4 separate regions of the Homo sapiens genome follow, and regions 1, 3 and 4 are each linked to region 2. Evidence: fine-mapped expression QTL. A gene starts in region 2. Each other region holds a variant in brackets. All regions are shown on one strand. Distances are between the middles of the regions.

The links. PIP is the estimated chance that this variant, and not a neighbour inherited with it, causes the effect.
Region 1: its variant is fine-mapped to the expression of ZFX in fibroblasts (GTEx, PIP 0.97).
Region 3: its variant is fine-mapped to the expression of ZFX in whole blood (TOPMed, PIP above 0.99).
Region 4: its variant is fine-mapped to the expression of ZFX in blood mononuclear cells (TOPMed, PIP above 0.99).

Annotation. Positions count from the first base shown.
Region 1 is chrX:23,794,355-23,799,553 of GRCh38, forward strand. No RefSeq gene overlaps it. Among named protein-coding and RNA genes, the nearest start is that of SAT1, 14 kb to the left of the region's middle. The variant T/G (reference allele first, on the strand shown) is at 2,439.
Region 2 is chrX:24,147,153-24,152,351 of GRCh38, forward strand. It overlaps ZFX (zinc finger protein X-linked), which reads left to right and starts at 2,577. Exons shown (of 10, transcript NM_003410.4): 1 at 2,577-2,642; 2 at 4,539-4,648. It overlaps ZFX-AS1 (ZFX antisense RNA 1), which reads right to left and starts at 2,502. Exons shown (of 3, transcript NR_046657.1): 1 at 2,403-2,502; 2 at 1,601-1,690. RefSeq lists enhancers at 1,914-2,013, 2,220-3,033 and silencers at 2,124-2,483, 2,544-2,953, 2,974-3,023, 3,074-3,583.
Region 3 is chrX:24,219,410-24,224,608 of GRCh38, forward strand. No RefSeq gene overlaps it. Among named protein-coding and RNA genes, the nearest start is that of ZFX, 72 kb to the left of the region's middle. The variant CCTTT/C (reference allele first, on the strand shown) is at 2,528.
Region 4 is chrX:24,211,927-24,217,125 of GRCh38, forward strand. It overlaps ZFX (zinc finger protein X-linked), which reads left to right. Exons shown (of 10, transcript NM_003410.4): 10 at 1-4,329. Among named protein-coding and RNA genes, the nearest start is that of ZFX, 65 kb to the left of the region's middle. The variant T/G (reference allele first, on the strand shown) is at 3,061.

The DNA.
Region 1 (5,199 bases), 350 kb before region 2:
TGTGACATATTTATAGTAACACTACACTGAGCATCTACTATGTGCCAGACATTGTGGTTTTATTTCATGAATGCCCATAACAATATTGTAGGGTATTCCAGTGGTATGCTAGTAAGTCAGCTGGAGGTGGGGTATCCTTGATTTGTAGAACTGGCTGATTTCCATGGTGTGAATACATCCGCTAAGGGTGTACCAAAGGTTTTAGCAACTGGCTGACAAAATTCCTGAATATTTAACAATAGGTTCTCCCAAGCCAGAAGGAGCAGGTTGCAGCACACCACTGGATCAGGCCCATCTTATTTTATTGCATTTTATTTTATTGAGACAGGGTCTTGTTCTCTCACCCAGGCTGCAATGCAGTGGTGTGATCGCAGCTCACTGCAGCCTCAACCTCCCAGGCTCAATTAATCTTCTCACCTTAGTCTCCTGAGTAGCTGAAACCACAAGTGCATGCCACCAAACTCCTGGCTAATTTTTGTATTTTTTTGGCAGAGACGGGTCTTGCCATGTTGCCCAGGCTGGTCTTAAACTCCTGGGCTCAAGTGATCCACTGGCCTCGGCCTCCCAAAGTGCTGGGATTAAGGGCGTGAGCCACCATGCCCAGCACAAATCAATTTATTTTATGTCATACAACCAGGAGGCAACAGGATTGAGATCTGAACTGGGTAGCCGGGTTGCACATATACCTCACGAACTACAACTCATGGTCTAGTCTCACTAACCATTCATGGTAGTGTTTCCTCATTAAACACTGGTGGTGCTTTAGGGCTAAGACTGTTTCTTTGAAACCTGGAAAAGGTCTTGCCTGTGCTTAGATTCGGTGTCGAGGAACAGGGAGAATGCAGTCTTCCTGTCCACTGTTCCCTGTCTCAACACGTCTCTGCCAGCTCTGCAAGAAAATTCGACACTTCCACAAAAGACCAGTGAAGGAAGCCAACATGTTTCACCCCAAAACATACTTCTTTGACGTATTTCAAGATGGCTATTCAGAAGGGCTGGAAATACGAGAATAGCTGCAAAGCTGCCTTTTGTGGAGCTTTGTATGTGTAGAGAAAATCCGCATTGATGCAGCCCTGCTTTCTCGGAGGCCCTCCCTTGTCCGGATCTAGGAAAGATTGACTGAGAGTCTGACGCCTTTGGAGGCCTTTGGAGGCCTGAAAAAGGGCTACCACTTGTGAGGTTTGATCTACATAACAAGACCCACTTTGCTAGCCAGGCCTCCTCTTCTCCCCCTAAACAGGTTAGAAGAGGACTTCTCCTCCAACCTGTTTTGCCAGGATCCAAGCCCCATTCTTTTATTTTTATTTATTAATTTTATTTTGAGACGGAGTCTAGCTCTGTCGCCAGGCTGGAGTGCAGTGGCGTGATCTCGGCTCACTGCAGCCTCCACCTCCCAGGTTCAAGCGATTCTCCTGCCTCAGTCTCCCGAGTAGCTGGGATTACAGGTGCCCGCCACCACACCCAGCTACCAAGCCCCATTCTTTCTGTAACCTCAAGATGGTATATAAACCTCTGTACCCCCTGGAGGATGGGTTGCAGTAATCACTCTGTGATTTCCCTCCGTGAACATTGATAAATTTGTATGCCATTTCTTCTACTAATCTGCCTTTTGTCAGTTGATATTCCAGTGAACCGTCAGAAGGCGAAGGGAAAGATTTCCCTTGGCCTCCACAGCAGATTTGAGGCAAGGCAAGTGTTTGAGACGGAGTTTCGCTCTTGTTGCCCAGGCTGGAGTGCAATGGCGCAATCTCGGCTCATGGCAACCTCCGCCTCCCGGGTTCAAGCCATTCTCCTGCCTCAGCCTCCGGAGTAGCTGGGATTACAGGCATGCACCACCTCGCCCGGCTAATTTTGTATTTTTAGTAGAGATGGGGTTTCTCCATGTTGGTCAGGCTGGTCTCGAACTCCTGGCCTCAAGTGACCCAACCTGCCTTGGCCTCCCAAAATGCTGGGATTACAGGCATGAGCCACCATGCCTGGCCAAATTACGTTTGAGTTCTGTTGCTAGAAACAAAAATGTGCTCTCCTGAATTTTCCACACAGGCCTCCAAGGAGTTAAAAGACAAAAATCATTTTCCAGTTTCTCTGGCTTCAAGCCTGATTCCCAGACGGGATCCAACACTAATCGCCATCCAAATGCCTGTCAGCAAGATAGTCATGATGTACTCTGGCATATAGTACTGAGGCAGTCTTGGGCAATGTTGTTATAGAATTATGTTATAATTATACTCGGCCTTGTTTCCTGCACATCTCACAGATGCTTATCCACCAACGGAGTGTTAGCTGACAATCATTCCAAACAAGCCCAGACAAAAGGAATAATAGCGGTAACCTGAGGAACTTCGGAAGAAATACACAGCTAAGGTCTGAGAATGTTTGGCCAGTTCAATAGCCTCTTACGGGCAAGTCCAATGTCAGGCGGCATTTCTACCTTCTCC[T/G]GTTCTGCCTTTGACCTCTTCACGCTCTCTTGTCCTGTCCAGAACACTGTCACTTAAACTCCTCTGTTTTTTTTTTCTTTTTTTTTGAGACAGGGTCTTGTTCTGTCGCCCAGGCTAGAGTGCAGTGGCACAATCACAGGTTACTGCAGCCTTGAGCTCCCAGGCTCAAGTGATCCTCCCACCTCAGCCTCTGGAGTAGCTGGGATTACAGGCACATGCTACCACACCTGACTAATTTTTGTAAAGATGAAGTCTAAGTCTCACCATGTTGGCCAGGATGGTCTCAAACTCCTGGCCTCAAGTGATCCACCTGCCTCAGCCTCCCAAGGTGCTGGGATTACAGGCATGAGCCACTGTGCCTGGCCAAAAACATGTAACACTGGGGGAAATTCTTTCAATCCTCCATTCGCCCTGACCCCCCCACTCCAATACCACCCCACTTTCCAAAAGGGCTCAAAGGCTTAAGGAGCTGAATGTCGGGGTACTGTTTGTTAGAACTGCGAAGGAGGGGCCTGTCTATCCACCGTCCTCTTGGTCCTCCCCTGAGATGGGAGAAAAAGGCTTGTGTTATGCTCAGGGGCACCATGGTCTCCGCCAGACCGGATGGAATTCTGGGGAAACGTTCCCACAGAAATCCAGGGAAGTGGAGAGGAGAAAGCTCCTGAGGGAAGAATCTAGGTGGTGCTGCGTGTGTGTGGTTTACATGCCAGTCTGTATTTTAAGAGGTTTCCAAGCCGATTTTAATTAACCTCCAGTTGAAACTTGCTAAACAAGTTTTGCAGCCCAGGTTATTGTGTTAGTATTTTTCCGGGTATATTGTCCTAGGTTTGAATTTCATGATGTTTATTATTCTTTCTAACTACAACTCAGTGGGGAAAAGCCCAAGGTACCTTTTAAGACCTAAGTATTTCCTGGTAATGACTTGTAGGAAAGAATGACATTTCCATAACATTTGGACCAAGAGAAGAAGTGAGAATTTAAAGTTGACATTTGCAAGTGATAAAAGCCAAAACCAAAAGTATTCTTTTAAAGAATATGCCTTTCTTCTAATGAAATATACACAAGTCTTGATTCAGATGATAACTTTTCTAGAATTACCTTTGAAAACAAACCCTTAGGTTTCTTATGCTCCAACCCCTAGGGGACAGATTCAGAACAGCTTGTTTCTTTCAAGTCTACTCAATCAAGGCCTGCCTTCTAGAGACTTTTCTTTTTTTTTTTTTTTTTTGAGATGGCATTTCGCTCTTGTTGCCCAGGCTGGAGTGCAGTGGCGCAATCTCAGCGCACCGCAACCTCCGCCTCCTGGGTTCAAGCGATTCTCCTGCCTCAGCCTCCCAAGTAGCTGGGATTACAGGCATGCGCCACCACACCTGGCTAATTTTCTATTTTTAGTAAAGACGGGGTTTCTCCATGTTGGCCAGGCTGGTCTCGAACTCCCGACCTGAGGTGATCCACGCCCCCACCCCTCGGCCTCCCAAAGTGCTGGGATTACAGGCATGAGCCACCGCGCCCAGTCTCTAAAGACTATTTTTAATGGGCACCATATGATCTCTCTGGAACTGAGAAGAGCGGACTTTGGGGAAATTAGAAAAGATGTAGAAGGATGCTGCTCCAAGGGCCTTCAGAATAATCACTTGACATCATCTCTGATAAGTTACTCTCTAGGTCATTTATATAAGCCTCTGCCCCAAGCATATAGGAGAGAGACATCTAGTTTAGGGCCATCAAACTGGGAAACATTTGTTGCTTGAGGTATACAAGAGGATTCCAAGGTACTGAGTTTTAAGGAACTTGGGTTCCAAACCTCAACTTCTATATATACTCTTTCCAGAAATGGTCTACCTGAAAATGCTCCTGAGGTTAAGAGGTCACACTTGGGCTGGGCGCAGTGGCTTATACCTGTAATCCCAGCACTTGGGGAGGCCAAGGCGGGAGGATCCCTTGAACCCAGGAGTTTGAGACCAGCCTGGGCAATAGAGTGAGAGCTTGTCTCTAAAAAAGAAAAAAAATTAAAATAATAATAATAGGAGGTCACACTTGGCTCCTCTTGCCTCTCTCCTCTTTCATAAATGCCCTTCCTGGCAAGATGGGGTGGTTCACAGCTGCACTCTTTTTATTTATTTATTTTTGAGACAGAGTCCCGCTCTGTTGCCCAGCCTGGAGTGCAGTGGTGCAATCTCGACTCACTACAACCTTCACTTCCCAGGTTCAAGTGATTCTCCTACCTCAGCCTCCTGAGTAGCTGGGATTACAGGTGCTTGCCACCACCACCTGCTGATTTTTGTATTTTTGGTAGAGATGAGGTTTCACCATGTTGGCCAGGCTGGTCTCGAACTCCTGACCTCAGGTGATCCACCTGCCTTGGCCTCCCAAACTGCTGGGATTATAGGGGTGAGCCACCGTGCCTGGCCTCGGCTGTACTCTTAACACTTTGGGAGGAGGAGGTGGGTGGATTGCTTGAGCCCAGGAGTTTGAGACCAGCCTGGGCAACACAGTGAAACCCCTGTCCCTAAAATAAATAAATGAATGCCCTTCTCCCACCTTACTAAAGAAAGGTGTACCCCTAACCTACCCTGAATCTTAGCAGAGGGTGCTACCCCCAAGGTGTAAAAACCTCTGGGCACCAAACCAAAGAATAATTCAGGAATGTACAGCTCTCAAGGGAAGAGTTCCCAGAGAGTTGAGACCCCTTCTCAGATTACTTAGGTAGGAGCATGTACTGGGGTTTTATTTCAAGTTTCACAAAGAAAGAAGCTCCTCA
Region 2 (5,199 bases):
ATAGTTGACCTTATCTGTATAGTCATCTATAAAATAACTGGACTTTATAAAGTTTGCTGGACTTTAATAAAGGTTTATCTAATCTAATAGAACTAGGCCATCCTTTCTTTGTTTCCCACCAAAGTTAACAGTCTCTTCCTGTATGAAAAGTAATGACAAAGGGCTCTTTGAAAGTATCAATCCCTAAACTACTTGTGATCTTTTAAACTGAGAAAACTTCTTTTTCTTTCATGCTCCTTGGACACTGTTTTCTTAAGTGCTTTACACTGGTGGATGTATAAGTATTTTTGATGGTAATTATGGAAAAACTAACAAGAATGGTGACATTAGGTTTTTCTGTCTTGAACATGCTGCTTACAGTTGCATGGATGAAGTGAGGCTCTATTCTTCTTCTTTTTTTTTTTTTTTAATAGAGACGAGGTCTCACCATGTTACCCAGGCTAGTCTTGAACTCCTGGGCTCAAGTGATCCTCTCGCCTCGGCCTCCCAAAGTGCTGTGATTACAGGACTGAACCAGGGAACCTGGCCTCCATTCTTGCCATACCGTAGCATCACACTGAGGCCCTTGGAAAGTACTTAAACGCTGATTATCAATGTTTTGAAATATTAATGTGGGCGGCCGGGCACGGTGGCTCACGCCTGTAATCCCAGCACTTTGGGAGGCCGAGGCGGGTGGATTACCTGAGGTCAGGAGTTGGAGACCAGCCTGGCCAACATGGTGAAACCCCATCTCTACTAAAAAAATAGAAAAATTAGCCAGGCGTGGTGGCAAGTGCCTGTAATCCCAGCTACTCGGGAGGCTGAGGCAGGAGAATCGCTTGAACCCCGAAGGCAGAGGTTCAGTGAGCCAAGATCACGCCATTGCACTCCAGTCTGGGAGTGCAAGAAATATTAATGTGGGCACACAAGCTATTTCTCATTTTTTTTTATTGAAACAACATTGCTTAGTTTCATTTACCTTTCTGTGAAATGTCTTTCTGTGAAAGTCTATCACAGCCTGATGTAATTTTTATAAACAATGAATACATGCTGTTACTATTTTTGAAAGGAAATTTAATCGCTTGGAAAAATTCAGACTAAAGCCCCGAGAGGAAAATTATCATCCAGTGCATGCTCAGAGATTTCTTCTTACTCTACTTTTGTTTTTCCTTTTTGAAAGCATTTGTGATTGAGAGATGTCTGAGGGAAGGGACAAATTGCATTCTGGGAGTTTTAAAGAGTTATGTCAGGCAACTAAAATACGTGGCCTCTGTATTTAAAGAGATTTCACACCAGTATACTATTTGCTTTATAATTTTTGTGTTTCTTATTGTTTAAAAATGCCTTTAACATTTAGTGCTGTGTTAAAGGATAGCATGCCAGATTCCAGATTAATGTAAAGACTCCACTATTTAACTTTTCCCTAGTAACTTTAAAACAGAGTTTGGGTTCCAAGTTCAGCATGGAAAGATAGCATAAACATTTAAACTAAGTAAAGTGCGAAATACACATTTTTGAAGTTGGTAAGTGCTGTTTAATCATTTTCCCCTTCTCTCCCAAGTCTTTTGAAACTTCAAAAGGCTTGTTTAAGCAGTGTGTTTAAAAAAAAAAAAATCCATACCCAATTGGGCTCCTCTCTATTAAGGAATGTGGAAAATTCATGATTTATGAAACGATGACACCAGTCTTACATTTCACAGGCTCCCAAGCTCTGAAACACGGGTACATAGGAAAATACACAGAAAATTCCTGTTCTTTGCAACGTGCGAAACGTTTCAAAATGCAACTTTGCTCATCTCCCTCCCCCGTACAAACTAATAAAATCAGTTTGGCTCTGACTGCTTATTTTTAAAAAGTAGACGGCCTGGTAGGTGCTCTAGGGATAACCCTTCTCCCCCCACTCCACCCCCCTTCCCGCACACCCATTTAGACTGGCAAGCCCGTTTTCATTTTATTTCAAAGATTTTTTTTTTTTAAGCGAAGGCAGGGGACGGCGGGGGTTGCTAAATTTATCTTCCTCCCCAGCCACGGGGATGAAGAAAACACATTTACTGCGGGCGGGGGTCTGAGGGCCTGCAAACAACTCGAGCTGGAGCCTCGGCCAGGACCGGCGCGAGAGGCGGTAGGTCTCCAGGGAGGCCCCCGGGGGGCGGCCGCGGCCCACGGGACATGGTGGGGGGCGGCCGGGCCGCCTGCCTCTCCGCGGGGTCGGCCGACCGCGGCCCCGCGCGGGCTTTACGGCCGAGGCGGCGGCGGCAGCGGCGCGTGTGTGGCGGCGGCGGGCGGGAGCGCGGAGGAGGTGGAAAGAAGGGGGGCGCTGTCACGGAGACTCCGGCCGCCGGAGACCCCGCCGCAGCGAGGCCACTGGGCTCCCCGGTCGCGGGGCGGGAGCGGCGCCGACACGGGGTGCCAGGAGGACCCACCGGGCGGAGGAGGGGGCCTGTCTACCCTTCCGCATTTTCCTGGGTCTCTCTCCCGGGCGGTGACGTGACGTGCTGACGGCGGGCCCGTGCCGGGGAGCTGGGCCGCTTTTTGTCAGCTCCGAGCTCGGCCCCTCCTCCCTCCCTCCGCCCGCCCCACCAGCCGGAGCCCGGCCCAGTGCTCCAGAGAAAGGCCGGCCTGCAGCACCCGCCACCGTCGCCGGCCGCCCGCACGTCCGTCCGGTGAGTCCCGGGTGCCGCCGCGGCCGCGGGGCCTAGTGCGCGCACAGCGGCCTGGTCTCGGCCTGGTCGGCGGCCCGCAAGGCGCCCTCCCGCGCTAGGCCGGGCGGCGTGGCGCGCGGCGCCGAGCAGGCCCCGAGGAGGCCGCAGTTAGGCCCGGGGAGGAGCCCGGCTGCCCCGAGCGGCGGCGGAGGCGCGCTCCGTAAGCGGGCGGGGGTTGGGGGAGGGTCGCCCGGTTGTGCCGGAGGCGGTCGAGGGGCCCCGGGTCGGCTCCGCGGCCGACCTGGGGCACCGCGCCGGGGTGAGGCCTGGCGAGGAGGCGAAGGCTGCAGGCGTGAGGTGAAGGCCGCAGGCCGGCCGGGCCGATTTTCGCTATGTAAATATCGGTGAGGGGGGGGGAGGGACGGGGGACAAGATGGCGGCGGCTCGGCGCCTGCTGCAGGGGACGATAGAGGGGGTTGCCGGGAGGGGGAGCCGCCATCTTGGAGGCGGTGTCTGGAGAGAAAATTCCGCTACAGCCCGTGAGGGGGGGTGGGAGAGCGGGCGGCGGCGGCAGCGGCGCCGGTGACGGGCCCCGGAGGCCCGGCGCGGCGGCGTGTGCGCGCGGAGGGGCGTGCTCGCTCCCCGTGGCGGCCATTGCCCTTGCCGCCATGATGAGCGCTCGGGCTCCAGGCGCTCGGCGGCAGCGCCACCTTCCTGCCTTGCCTCCCGCAGCCCCGTGACTGGCTGCAGTTTCCGCTGCGTTTCAGCTGAGCTGCCGCAGGCGGCCACCGCCGCCGCCCGGACGCCGGGACCGTTTCACCCTCAGCGCCCCTGGCCCTGCGCCTTCCCCCGCGCCTGTAGCCACCCGAGGGCAGTCGGGGCAGGTGGCATTCCGGACACCTGGGCTTACCAGGGCATACGGGACCCCAGGAAATGTTATTTTTGCTTAAGTCAAATCATATGTGGCTGCTAAGGTGCTTTCGATGCAGTTGTTTTTCCAACAATCTTTGCCGCCCCGAGTATCTGAATAAAGGAAGAAAAATAAAGATTGATGGGAAAGTTTTTGCCATTCTTTTGTCCTATAGGGAAAAAAATTGCACAACACGAGAGCGGAGGAATAAAATTTTGAATCATTCGTACTCATTTATGTGGAAACAACTTTCTTGAAAAACGATTTAAGTAGTGATCTGTTGGTGGTATTTTTTTAAATCGAGGAATAAGGGCAGACTTTTTTATTTTCTTATTGGAGGACAACTTAGTGTGGTGCATATTTATTGTGCATTTGCCTGTCATGGTATTTCGATTTTTCATTTGTGAAGTTTTAAGGCGGAGTTTCATCCCCTAACGTACTTTTTTGATTGCACACTGTGCAACTTTCTTGATAAACTCGGAGCCTACTGTTAGCGATGCACCGTGCTAGATGCTAAGAAACATTAAAAAGGTTCTTGTAATGCAGACGGTGGCTGCAAGAAGTCTCATGTTTAGAGGTAGGTGGGGCAAGGTGAAATGCAGTAAAGTGAGAGGTACAACTAATTACTGGGATTTCCGAGGGAAGCAAGGTTGCCATTGGAGGATCAGGGAGGGACGGGTTCCTGAAGTATTAATAGGTGGCATTTTGAGAAGGTTACCGAGGGATGGGTAGGACTTTGTTAGGTAGAGGTGGAGGTGGAGAAAGGACGTTTCAAGGGTGAAGCTTCTTCAGTAAACAGTAAGTATTTACAGTTTGGCAAAAGTGGATGGTATAGGTAGGGGAGTGGTGGGAATTCAGGCTAGAAAAGTTAGATTGCAGAAGGGCTTGCTTGCCAGGTGGAGGGGCTTATACTCAATGGGGTAGGCAGCGGGGGTGCCCTCAACTAGAAGAGTGATGGCACACCTGAGCTGCACCTTGTTATTTACTTATTTTTTATTTTGAGACAGGTTCTTGCTATATTGCCCCAGGCTGGTCTCGAACTCCTGGGCTCAAGCCGTTCTCCCGCCTCCCACTGCCCGCCTGTCACTGCCGTCTGTTCCCTGAGCTGTGCTTTACGGTACTTAGTAGTTCCATTGGACTAGGAAAAGTTTCAAAGTTGAAAAATAATGAGAGTAGTAAGTTGATCAGTGTTTTCATTATCAGAACGATTACAAGAATGTTCAGAAGTTAAGCAAATTTTGCTACTTTTGGAACGATGCGTCTCTATTAAGACAGCTGCTCCTTTTTTCTATCCTGATTTCTCATCCGAAATAATCTTTTGCTCAGAGTTGTCAGAATTTCTATGGTACACAAATAGGGAGGGGTTTCTAACATTTCATTTACCATGGTTGAAAAGTACAGGACTAGTGCTGTGGGTTATTTGACGAAAATGAGAAATGAGTATTCCCGTGGTAATTTTTTTTTTTTTTTGAGACTGAATCTCACTCTGTCGCCCAGGCTGGAGTGCAGTGGTGTGATCTTGGCTCATTGCAACCTCTGCCTCCCGGGTTCAAGTAATTCTCCTGCCTCAGCCTCCCGAGTAGCTGGGACTACAGGACCCTGCCACCATGCCTGGTTAATTTTTGTATTTTTAGTAGAGACAGGGTTTCATGTTGGCCAGGCTGGTCT
Region 3 (5,199 bases), 72 kb after region 2:
CCATACTTCTCATGTTGTTAATGTGCATATGCATCATCCGGGGTATGTTGTGAAAATGCTCATTCTGATTCAGTGAGTCCAGAGTGGGGCTTGTGACTGTGCACTTCCTGCAAGCTCCCTGGTGATATTGACGCTGTGGTCCATGGACCACGTGGTCCAAGCCCTGGAAGAATTCAGTGGTTCTCGATTTCGGTCATAGAATTACACGGGGCAGCCTTTGAACTTCCCAGAGCCCGGTGGGAATGGGTCTCAGACAGTAATTTTTCAAGTTCCTCAGGTGATTACAATGTGCAGCCAAGATGTGAACCACTCTTCTAGATTTGCAGTTTATTGCCATAGAGATACAATATTTTCTTACTATTTAATAATCTCATTCTCTCGCATTTCTGGTTGCATCTCCTTCCTCATCTTAAATGTTATATGTTTTGTTTTCTGTCATATTTCTTTTTTTTTTTTTTTGAGTCGGAGTCTTGCTCTGTCGCCCAGGCTGGAGTGCAGTGGTGTAATCTCAGCTCACTGCAACCTCTGCCTCCCGGGTTCAAGAGATTCTCCTGCCTCAGCCTCCAGAGTAGCTGGGATTACAGGCACACGCCAACATGCCTGGCTGATTTTTGTGTTTTTAGTAGAGATGATGATTTACCATGTTGGCCGGGCTGGTCTCGAACTCCTGACCTCAGGTGATCCGCCTGCCTCAGCCTCCCAAAGTGCTGGGATTACAGGTGTGAGCCACTGTGCCTGGCTCATATTTCTTTAAGTGGCTTTCAGAGGTTTTGCTATTTCATAGGTGGTGTCAAAGAAACTGCTCTTTTGTTTATATTTTTTGGTTTTCTACTTAATTTTATCTTTCGTTGTTACTTTTTTTTTCTCTCTTTTTTTTTTTTTTTTTTTTGAGACAAGGTCTCACTCTGTTGCCAAGGCTAGAGTGCAGTAGTGTGATCACAGCTCACTGCAGCCTCGACCTCCTGGGCTCAAGTGATCCTCCCACCTTAGCCTCCCGAGTAGCTGGGACCACAGGCACGCACCACCATGCCCAGCTAATTTTTGTATTTTTTTGGTAGAGACAGTGTCTTGTCATGTTGCCCAGGGTGGTCTCAAACTCCTGAACTCAAGCTATCCACCTGCCTCCCCCTCCCAAAGTGTTAGGATTACAGGTGTGAGCCACCCTGCCTGGCCTATTTTCTTTTCCTATTTTCTTCTGGTATATTTTACTATCTAATTAAAATGTCTGATGTTTTGTATTTCATTAATTTTCATTTATTTTTAAAGGAAATCCTTGAAACCTGTGTATTTCCTTTGGTATACAACTTTAGCTATAGGCCATTGTATATGAATTGTCCTTTTTTGTATTCTAGATAGTTTTACATCTGTTTTGATTTCCTATTTAAGTAGAGTTTAACTTTCAAGTAGTAAACATTTTTATTAATCCCTTTAGCCTTGATCTCTAGTTTTGTTGGTCTGAGTTCAAAGTATGGCCTGTATAACCTCTACATTTTTTTTTGGAATTTTTGAAGTTTTCCTTTTCGGCAAGACATAATTTTTTTGAAAATACAACACAGATATAGTATAACATCTTTACATTTATAGGTATAAACTTATAGATAAAACTGAGCTTGTTGATTATTCAGATCCTTTATATCCTATATCCTTGCTATTTTTTGACTACTTGAGTTTTTTTGTTTGTTTTTTTCTGAGACAGGTTCTCGCTGTGTTGCCTAGGCTGGTCTCAAACTCCTGGGCTAAAGCGAGCCTCCCACCTAAACCTCCCAAAGTTCTGGGATTACAGGCATGGGTCACCGTGCCTGGCGACTATTTGATTTTTAATTTTTGAAAAAATATCAAAATATCTCACTATAAGGGAGTTTTATGGAGTTTCCTTGTACTTAAAGTTTTGCTTTATATAATTGGTTTCTATCGATTTTTGTTTCATAGATGTTTGACAGATCTTATTTATGATTGTACCTTTTACAGGATATTTTTGTCCTCTTTAACGTATTTGGTCTTGAACTCTACTTTGATATGTGTTTTCTATTTCAATCCTTTCTTATGTCTTATATTACAAATTCTGTTATCATAATTTATTAGACATAAGTGTACACTGCAGAATTTTTGGCTACTGCTGTTTCTTGTCCATTTCATCTTTCCCCATTTGACATCTCTGTGCTGAATAAATTTTCATTTGGTTGATGTATACTTCGTTTGTTCCTTCATATTTGGTATGTGGGTGTATATTCTTTCTAAAACCTTGACTACCCCAAAACATCTATTTTTGCCTTGACAAATGATCTTAGTAGGTATAAACTTCTGTTCACAGTCTCTTTTCTTTCACAGTTTATAGATGTTTCATTGTTTTCCAACTTTAGTGTTATGAGAACTCCAATGCCTCTTCCTTTGTTTCCTGAAGTTCATATGAATTTTCCTTTGTCTTTGGAACTCAGAAAGGTCACTAGAATCTATCTAGGGGTGTGTGTGTGCACGTGTGTGTTTGTGTGTACTTCTAATCACATCTGGGATTTGTTATTTGCTGATT[CCTTT/C]CTTTCTGTTAAGTCTCTCTTCAGCTAAAGAAGTTTTCTTACATCTTGTGTGTAATTATTACTTATCATACTGGCATTTTGCTTCTTCGGGAATTCCTATTTTTCACATATAACATCTCCTGGATTTGTCTTGTCATCATAAAATGGCACCAAGAAGAAAGAATCCCTTTAATCCCGTGCCCCAGCGTGTGATCATTATTGTACCGAAAAATTTAAATGTTTGAAAGGGATGTCTCTTGAAGAGAGAAGGTATGTCCCCAGTGGTGGGATTGCTGAAAGAAAAAAAGAAAAAAAAGAAAAAAAGAAGCAAGAGAGTGATAGTCTGTAAATGTGCAACCTGTCCTGATGGAGTAACAGTGCTCTTGATTTATTTCTCCCTAGTAGAAGGAACTTCAGCCAGAAATTTCCTTTCATAGAATAACAGCATTCTGAGTACCTTCTTTGCCTCAACTTTAAATAAAGAAGCATGTAAAAAAGTCTTAATGCTAGGTACACAGTGCTGAATAAGAGTTCTCCATCTCTTCCTTTCCCTATACGTTACACATTTTGTTAAATGAGCAAGAATGAGAGCATTGTTGTAGCAGACATCACCACTGTCCCTGAATGTCATTCCTGATCTTATTCAAATTTAACATGTGTGAACAAATGTGAACCTGAGAGAGCCAATCATTCAAGACGGATCCCCAGTGGCTAACTGGGCCTAAATTTAAAATAGATGTGAACCAACTGGTATAGGAAAAAAAAAAAAAAAAAAGGAAAAAAACTGTAAAAATAAAACAGAGCCAAGCAGCCATTTGCTGACTAGAGGTCACCCATATCCTCTGAATTCCCCCTAAATCCACACCTCTGTTCAACTTTGGGACTCCAGAACTCACCTGAATCAACTAATCAGAGCATACCTGCCTCAGTCAATCAGGGCTCAGCTGTATCAACCAATCAGAACTCAGCTTCACTGACCAATCAAAACTAAGTTTCAGTCCTTTATTTGCATGAACAGACCAGATTGGGAACTTGGTCGAGAACTTTTGCTATGAGACCGTAACCCTGTTTTTGTTCTCTGGAAAACACCTTTGTTTTACAGGGAAGCCTTCCTCTCCCTAGTTTGCAAACCATGCACTGAAATAAAGTATCTTTCCTCCAAATTCCTTTCCAGAGAACTTTTGTTCACATGTGCAGTCCTAAGCTTTGTTTCAAAATGGACCAATTTACACTCTTCACAGCAAAATTGGAAAATATTGAGTTTTGGTGAGGATGTGCAGCAATGAGAACACGGTAATATTGGCACACTTTTAAGTTTTGCCAATTTTGTGCATGTAAAAGAATATTATATTGAGATTTTAATGAACATATCCCTAATTATGAATAATATTGAGCATCTTTTCACATATTTATTGGTTATTCACATTTCCTCTTTTGTGACAAGCCTATATTGGTTTTTTTTTTGGCCTATTTTCTATGAATGGCCCATTTCTATTGGATCACTTACATTTTTCTTGTTGATCCATAAACATCTATATCTCTATCTATCTATCTATCTATCTATCTATCTATCTATCTATCATCTATTTTAAGAGACAAGGTCTCACTATGTTGCCCAGGCTGATCTCGAACTCCTGGGCTCAATCAAAGAGCTGGGATCACAGGTGTGAGCCACCATGCCTGGCCCCTTTATATAGTCTTGATATTAGTCCTTTGTCAGTTATATGTAATTTTATTTATTTAGTTAGTTAGTTTTTGAGTCAGGGCCTTGCTCTGTCGCCCAGGCTGGATGGAGTGCGGTGACGCAATCTTGGCTCACTGCAACATCTACCTCCTGGGCTCAACCACCCCTCCCACCTCAGCCTCCCGAGTAGCTGGGACCACAGGTGCATGCCACTACGCCTGGCTAATTTTTCTATTTTTTTCTTTTTTGGTAGAGATGGGGTTTTGCCGTGTTGCCCCGGCTGGTCTCAGACTCCTGGGCTCAAGTGATCCTCTTGCCTTGGCCTCCCAAAGTGCTGTACAGGTATGAGCCACCACACCTGGCCATACATGTAATTTTAAAATCTCTGTAAATATCTTCTCTTGGTCTGTGGCTTGCCATTTTACTCTATTGTGTCTTTTGATTAACTTAAGTTCATCATTATAACCTGGTAAAATTGGTATCTTTTCCTTATGATTAATGCTTTATGTGTCTTAAGAAATCCTTCCTGATAGTAATGAGGTTATTCTCTGATATTAGTTTTTTAAAGCTCTGTAGTTTGACTTTTCATACTTATGTCTTTATCCTGAAACGGATTCGATGTGGATTATAGTGTGAGTTAAGCATTCACTTTAACGTTTTTCAACTTCAACTTCATACAGTTCAACTCTTTATTGAAAAAATCAATACTTGCCCACTAATTTGCAGAGCCAGCTCCATGATATATAAAATATTCCTGTGTAAGTGGATCTGCTTCTAGGATCTCTGTTTTGTTCCATTTGTCATTTGTCTTTCTCTGTAACTGTGCCCCATAACTTTTTTTGCAGGGGCGGGGGAGGATGGAGTCTCACTCTGTCCCCCAGGCCAGAGTGCAGTGGTGTAATCTCAGCTCACTGCAACCTCCACTTCCCGGGTTCAAGTGATTCTCCTTCCTCAGCCTCCCGAGTAGCTGGGACTACAGGCACGCACCGCCACCCCCAGCTAATT
Region 4 (5,199 bases), 65 kb after region 2:
GTTGCGTCCCTGGCTTTGCTGAGTAAAGAGCAGTGGCTGGGTTCGTGTTTACTTTTCAAATATACTTCTTTTGGCTTTCTTTGGATTATTTACATCTTTTGTCAGCGTAGCAAACTTTTAGAAAACCTTATTGAAAAACTGTGCTTGCTCATGTTGTATTTTGATTATTCTGTCTGTGCGGCTTCATCTTGGAATGGTTGTGTGCTACAAATGACACTTACTGAGGACTGCATTTTGGAATCTCCTAGAGGTAACTCATGGCTTATAGGATCTTTTGCAACTTTATGTATGTAAATGTACCCTGAATTATATATATACACATATATATCATGTACCTGTGTGTATTGCTTATTTTACATATTTATACACACAACCCCAAGTAGTAGTTGTTTAAAATCTATAATGAAAAGTATTAAATTTACAATAACATGAAAGATCCAGGGATGCATGAGAGAGCATTTTGTAAGTCATGCTCTTCAGAGAGACTACTCAGGTGAAGAATTAGAAGGAAAATAAGGACACTAGTATTTTTAAAGAGTAAAGATATTTTCTTTTAAATATCTTTGGTAATTGAAACATAGAGGTTAAGATGTTTCTAGGTAGAATGTTTTCATACAATTTCACCTCCATGTCTTTATGTTTTTCTGAAAAGCAAATGAGTATCCAGACATGACTCCCACAGTTCTCTTTGAGAAGCCTGAGAGGGAACTCTGTCTTACCTAGTGAGGGGGATGGAAAAGAAGTGATGGCTCTGTGGACCAGAGAACGGGTGCTAATTATGACTTCACACTCGGCAAGTTCAGGCTGATCTGTTATTTCTCAGTTACAGTTAGCAAACTTTAAAAACTTAACACTCAAGTTGGCTTTGATTAAAAGGTAAAGATGTGTTTTAAGTGGATAAGGAAAGTCTGAGGCCTTATTTGGAACATCACTAAGTCTTCCACAGGTTTTTTGTTTGTTTGTTTTTTTTTGTTGTTTTTTTTTCTTAAGACGGAGTCTTGCTCTGTTGCCCAGGCTGGACTGCAGTGGTGTGATCACTGCAACCTCTGCAGCTCACTGCAACCTCTGCTTCCTGGGTTCAAGCAATTATCTGCCTCAGCCTCTCGAGTAGCTGGGATTACAGGCGCCCACCACCACGCCCGGCTAATTTTTTGTATTTTTAATAGAGATGGGGTTTCACCATCTTGGCCAGGCTGGTCTTGAACCCTGACCTCGTGATCCACCTGCCTCGGCCTTCCATAGTGCTGGGTTTACAGGCGTGAGCCACCGTGCCCAGACACCACATAGGTCTGAATCAGTGTCATACATTCATAAAACAAACTCGGTTAATTAGAACTTGGTTATGTTAAGACGAATCTGGGAGAACAGAAAACAGTTTTTGGGGTCCCTTCAGTTGGCTATTGGTCCGTATGCATCTAGCACATTGTAGGAGATTTAGAAATTGTCTTCCCACCCGATAGCTGCCTTGTCACCTCATTATGGTGCTCCATCCCCTGTGTGCTTAGGTTTTTACCTTTCATCTTTCTCTTTGCCATTGATGTTTGTATTCAAGAGTTATATTTTTAGGGTTAGAAATCAAAATATTTGGTGTTTGGCAAACCTCTGAAGTGCTAGACTGATTTAGTCTAGTTTTAAACCAAGTGCTTTAGGCAGGTGTGAACTCCAGCCCAAATGCCAGTCAAAGTCAAGGCATGGGTTTTCCTAGCCTATCTTATAGGAAATTCCTGTACCTTCTTGGCCCCCATAATGTGTTTTTTTTTTTTTTTTTTTTTTAAACTAACTTACAATTTTGTGATCCGTGATTCATTGCCCTGCGATTCTTGAAAGCTCTGTCTGTTTTTTTGTGAGAACCTTTAAAATCTCCCTTAATTTTTATTTTCCCAGAAATAATGTAAAAACACTTAAATGAAAGTGGAAATGTATTAATTTTAAATCCTATAAAATTAATACAGAAAATATAAATGATTGGGTCATTTAACTATATTTTTTTAAATAAACTGAAAGATAAAGAACACAACACTTCACACATTTTATATTTCTCTTACATACTCCGGAATCATACACAGTTCTTTTTAAAGCACAACATTAAAACCTTTAAAAGGTATTTAAGGGTTTGGTCAAGTGAATATGATAAAACATACTTGTCTGTATAAAGAGAAAATGAAATTGTAGTCACTGTTATGTACTGACATTAGTTACAACCTAGTTTTAATTCTTAAAACAATTTTGATTAGCAAAGCTAAAAAAAAATGGATGTTTCAGTTAAATGTTTTAAAGAGGTACAGATTTTTACAAGGACATAATATAAGTTATTGTTCTGTAGAAATATCCTATTAAATATTGTATGTCCCTCCCTCTGTACACTTTGTAAAGAAAGTAAAATACATAAAAAGAAAATCATATAGGGATGTGTGACATTATTGTAATTGTGTACTTGAGAATAACGTGCAAAAATAAAAATCAGAATATTTTCCTGTTATTGAATGTTTAGTCTATTTGATACCAGTACTAAGTTAATGCTTTTTCTCAAGGAAAAAAAATGTACAGTTTTTGTAAACCTAATAAACATCAAAAGCAGTGGATTATTTTCATCCCCCCATTTCTTAATTTCTTTTTCACAGCAGTGGAATGCAAAGTGCTTGATTGCTTTGAATTTTGTGACTCGGATGCAAATACTGGTAATATTTCAGTTCTGTGAATTTGCAAGTAATATTTCAGAGAAGTTAAGAGGTGATTGGTGAGTCCTTTGATGAGCATGTCCTTGGAATTCATTTTTTCTTTTATCTTCATAAAGGATTTGTTTTATTAGCATCTCCAATTCCCCTGAGATAAATTACTCATGCATAAAGTGGTTTTTGAGAGCACTTAAAGTTCATTTCAGTATTAATTTACAGCATATTTAATCAGTGGGGACTGTTACCACCTCCACAACAGAAATCATGCCCTCGAGTTACCCCACTGCGCCCAGTTTAGAGGACTAGTAGATGCTAACATACTAGGGAATGGTCATTGCCACAGTTAAAAATCGGCAGTTAAGTAAATGTCAGGAGTCAAAAGAGA[T/G]AGAGTTGTGCCATCTTTGATTTTATAGACAAGATTCTGCAGTTCTTCCAACTGTATGAACAAACGTTTGCCTAATAGTTGAAACAATAAATTAAAATTTTAGGTAAATGACGAAGGGAATGTGGTGAATGTCACTGTCCAGAGCCATAAATCAGACAAAACCATACATAGCATGCTGAAAAACTTTTGTAATGGAACACCCAACAAATGACACCTAACCTGTCTGTGATCCAACAAGTCCGATAACATGCTGCTGTATTTGTATTCTCTGGGAATCTCAGTATTAATAATTTCATTTCCCACAAATTCTAGCATTCATGTAAGGAAAAACATGGCTAATCAATATCTTAAAGGGGCAATCTTTCAGAGCAGTGGTTTTCAAAGTATGGCCGGACAGCATTGGCAGCATCTTAATCTCCTGGGACTTTGTTAAAAATGCAAATTCTCAGCCCCACCCTAGTCCTACTGAATTGGGAAACTGGCGTGGGACCCAGCAGTCTTTGTTTTAACATGTTCTCCAAGTGATTCTGATGCCTGTTCAAACTTGGGAAACACTTTTAGAGCACTTGAGGAACCTAAAAGATGACTGGTTCAGCATTTTGTGTGGTAGATAAGAAAGAAATTATCACAAAAAATCAGAAATGAACAGTGAGAGAAAAATAGGACCCCAGACAGTTTATACCTTCCATTTGCTGTTTTAAAAGTGTGAGCCTGCCAAGTCAACAAGTATGCCTTTAGCGCACATGTAAATAGCCTGCACTTCCTAAATCTCGTGTGGCCTCCCATGGTTACATTCTTCAAAGGTAAACTGAGTTGAGAGGAAGATTCAGCATTTAAAAGAGAAGGGTTGAAAAAGATTGTGTGTGTGTGTGTGTGTGTTTAATTGGCCCAGGGTTACTTAAATAAATCATAACCATTTTGCCACATTCTGTAACTGTTTAGCTAAGGTCAAATTAAGTTTACCCTATGGATTTTGTTTCATCTTTTGTTTCGTGTATATACTGTTTGCCTTTTTCATAAAAATCTTGGATTTGTTATATATTGTTCCTGTTATTTTTGACATCTTTGCTATTGTAAATAAATTACTATTTTGTTTTAAGTTACCCTAGTGGAGTGTTGGCTATAGACAAGGTATATACTCGAAACGAGGAGACTTAAATCACACAGTTAATGAATTCCCAACTTGTTTGAAGCTGGAGGTGATTCGACTCCCTTCAGTGGTTCAACACTAATAATAGCACCAAGGAACATGTCACTGGTGCATATAGGCATAGCATCTGTACCGACTTGGATTTCAAAATCATGTTTTGACCTCTGTGATGGAAGTACTCACTCCATGAAGTTTGAGGTCAAAATCAAGAATTACTTTCCTTTACTTGGTTTTTCCTATTCAATTGGTCTCTCATGTTACTTGTATTGCTGGTATTGGTGGACACAAAGGATCTGGCATTACAGTGACCTGTCGAGACTGTAAAGCCACTAGGAGACTTGGCTACTAAAAACCTGCTCAGGACTTCTAGATGTTGTTTGGCTCTGAACTACCACAGAAGTATCTAAACACATTGACTAAAAGTATAGAATAGTTAACTAGACCTATATTATTTTGCTTTCTAAGAGGCCAGTTTCTGCTTTTAAATGCAGAACCCATTTCCTTTTGTCTGAGATTCTTTGAAATAGGAGGGGTATTGCAAAGCCATCTGTTGGGGTTTTGAAGGTTCTAGTCACCTGTCCTCCCCTCTTGAGTTCTAACCACATTGAAGATAGACAAGAAACCACCAATTAAGTGTGCGATTTATTCTAGTAAGGCTGGATTGGGAGACCCAGAGGCTGAGATGAGTCTGTTTCCAATCTCTTTCCCTCCAATGTAGGCCTTGACTGATGCAGCCAGTCATTTGAAGGCATGGGGCCTACCTTCCACTCCTTTGTGAGCTATCAGGAGACTAGTTCTGTCATCAGAGAAAGGGAGCATCTACTCCAGCCCTCCCAGGCTAGAACACAGGAAAAGGGGGAGAGTTCCCTTACATCATCCTAATAAAGGTTAGTCCAATTCTGGATTGCCCTCTGACATTAGCACACTAGCAACATGTGAGGTTTCGCCATTAGCCTTGCATGTTTGTGTCCACTTTTATTGATTTTTAC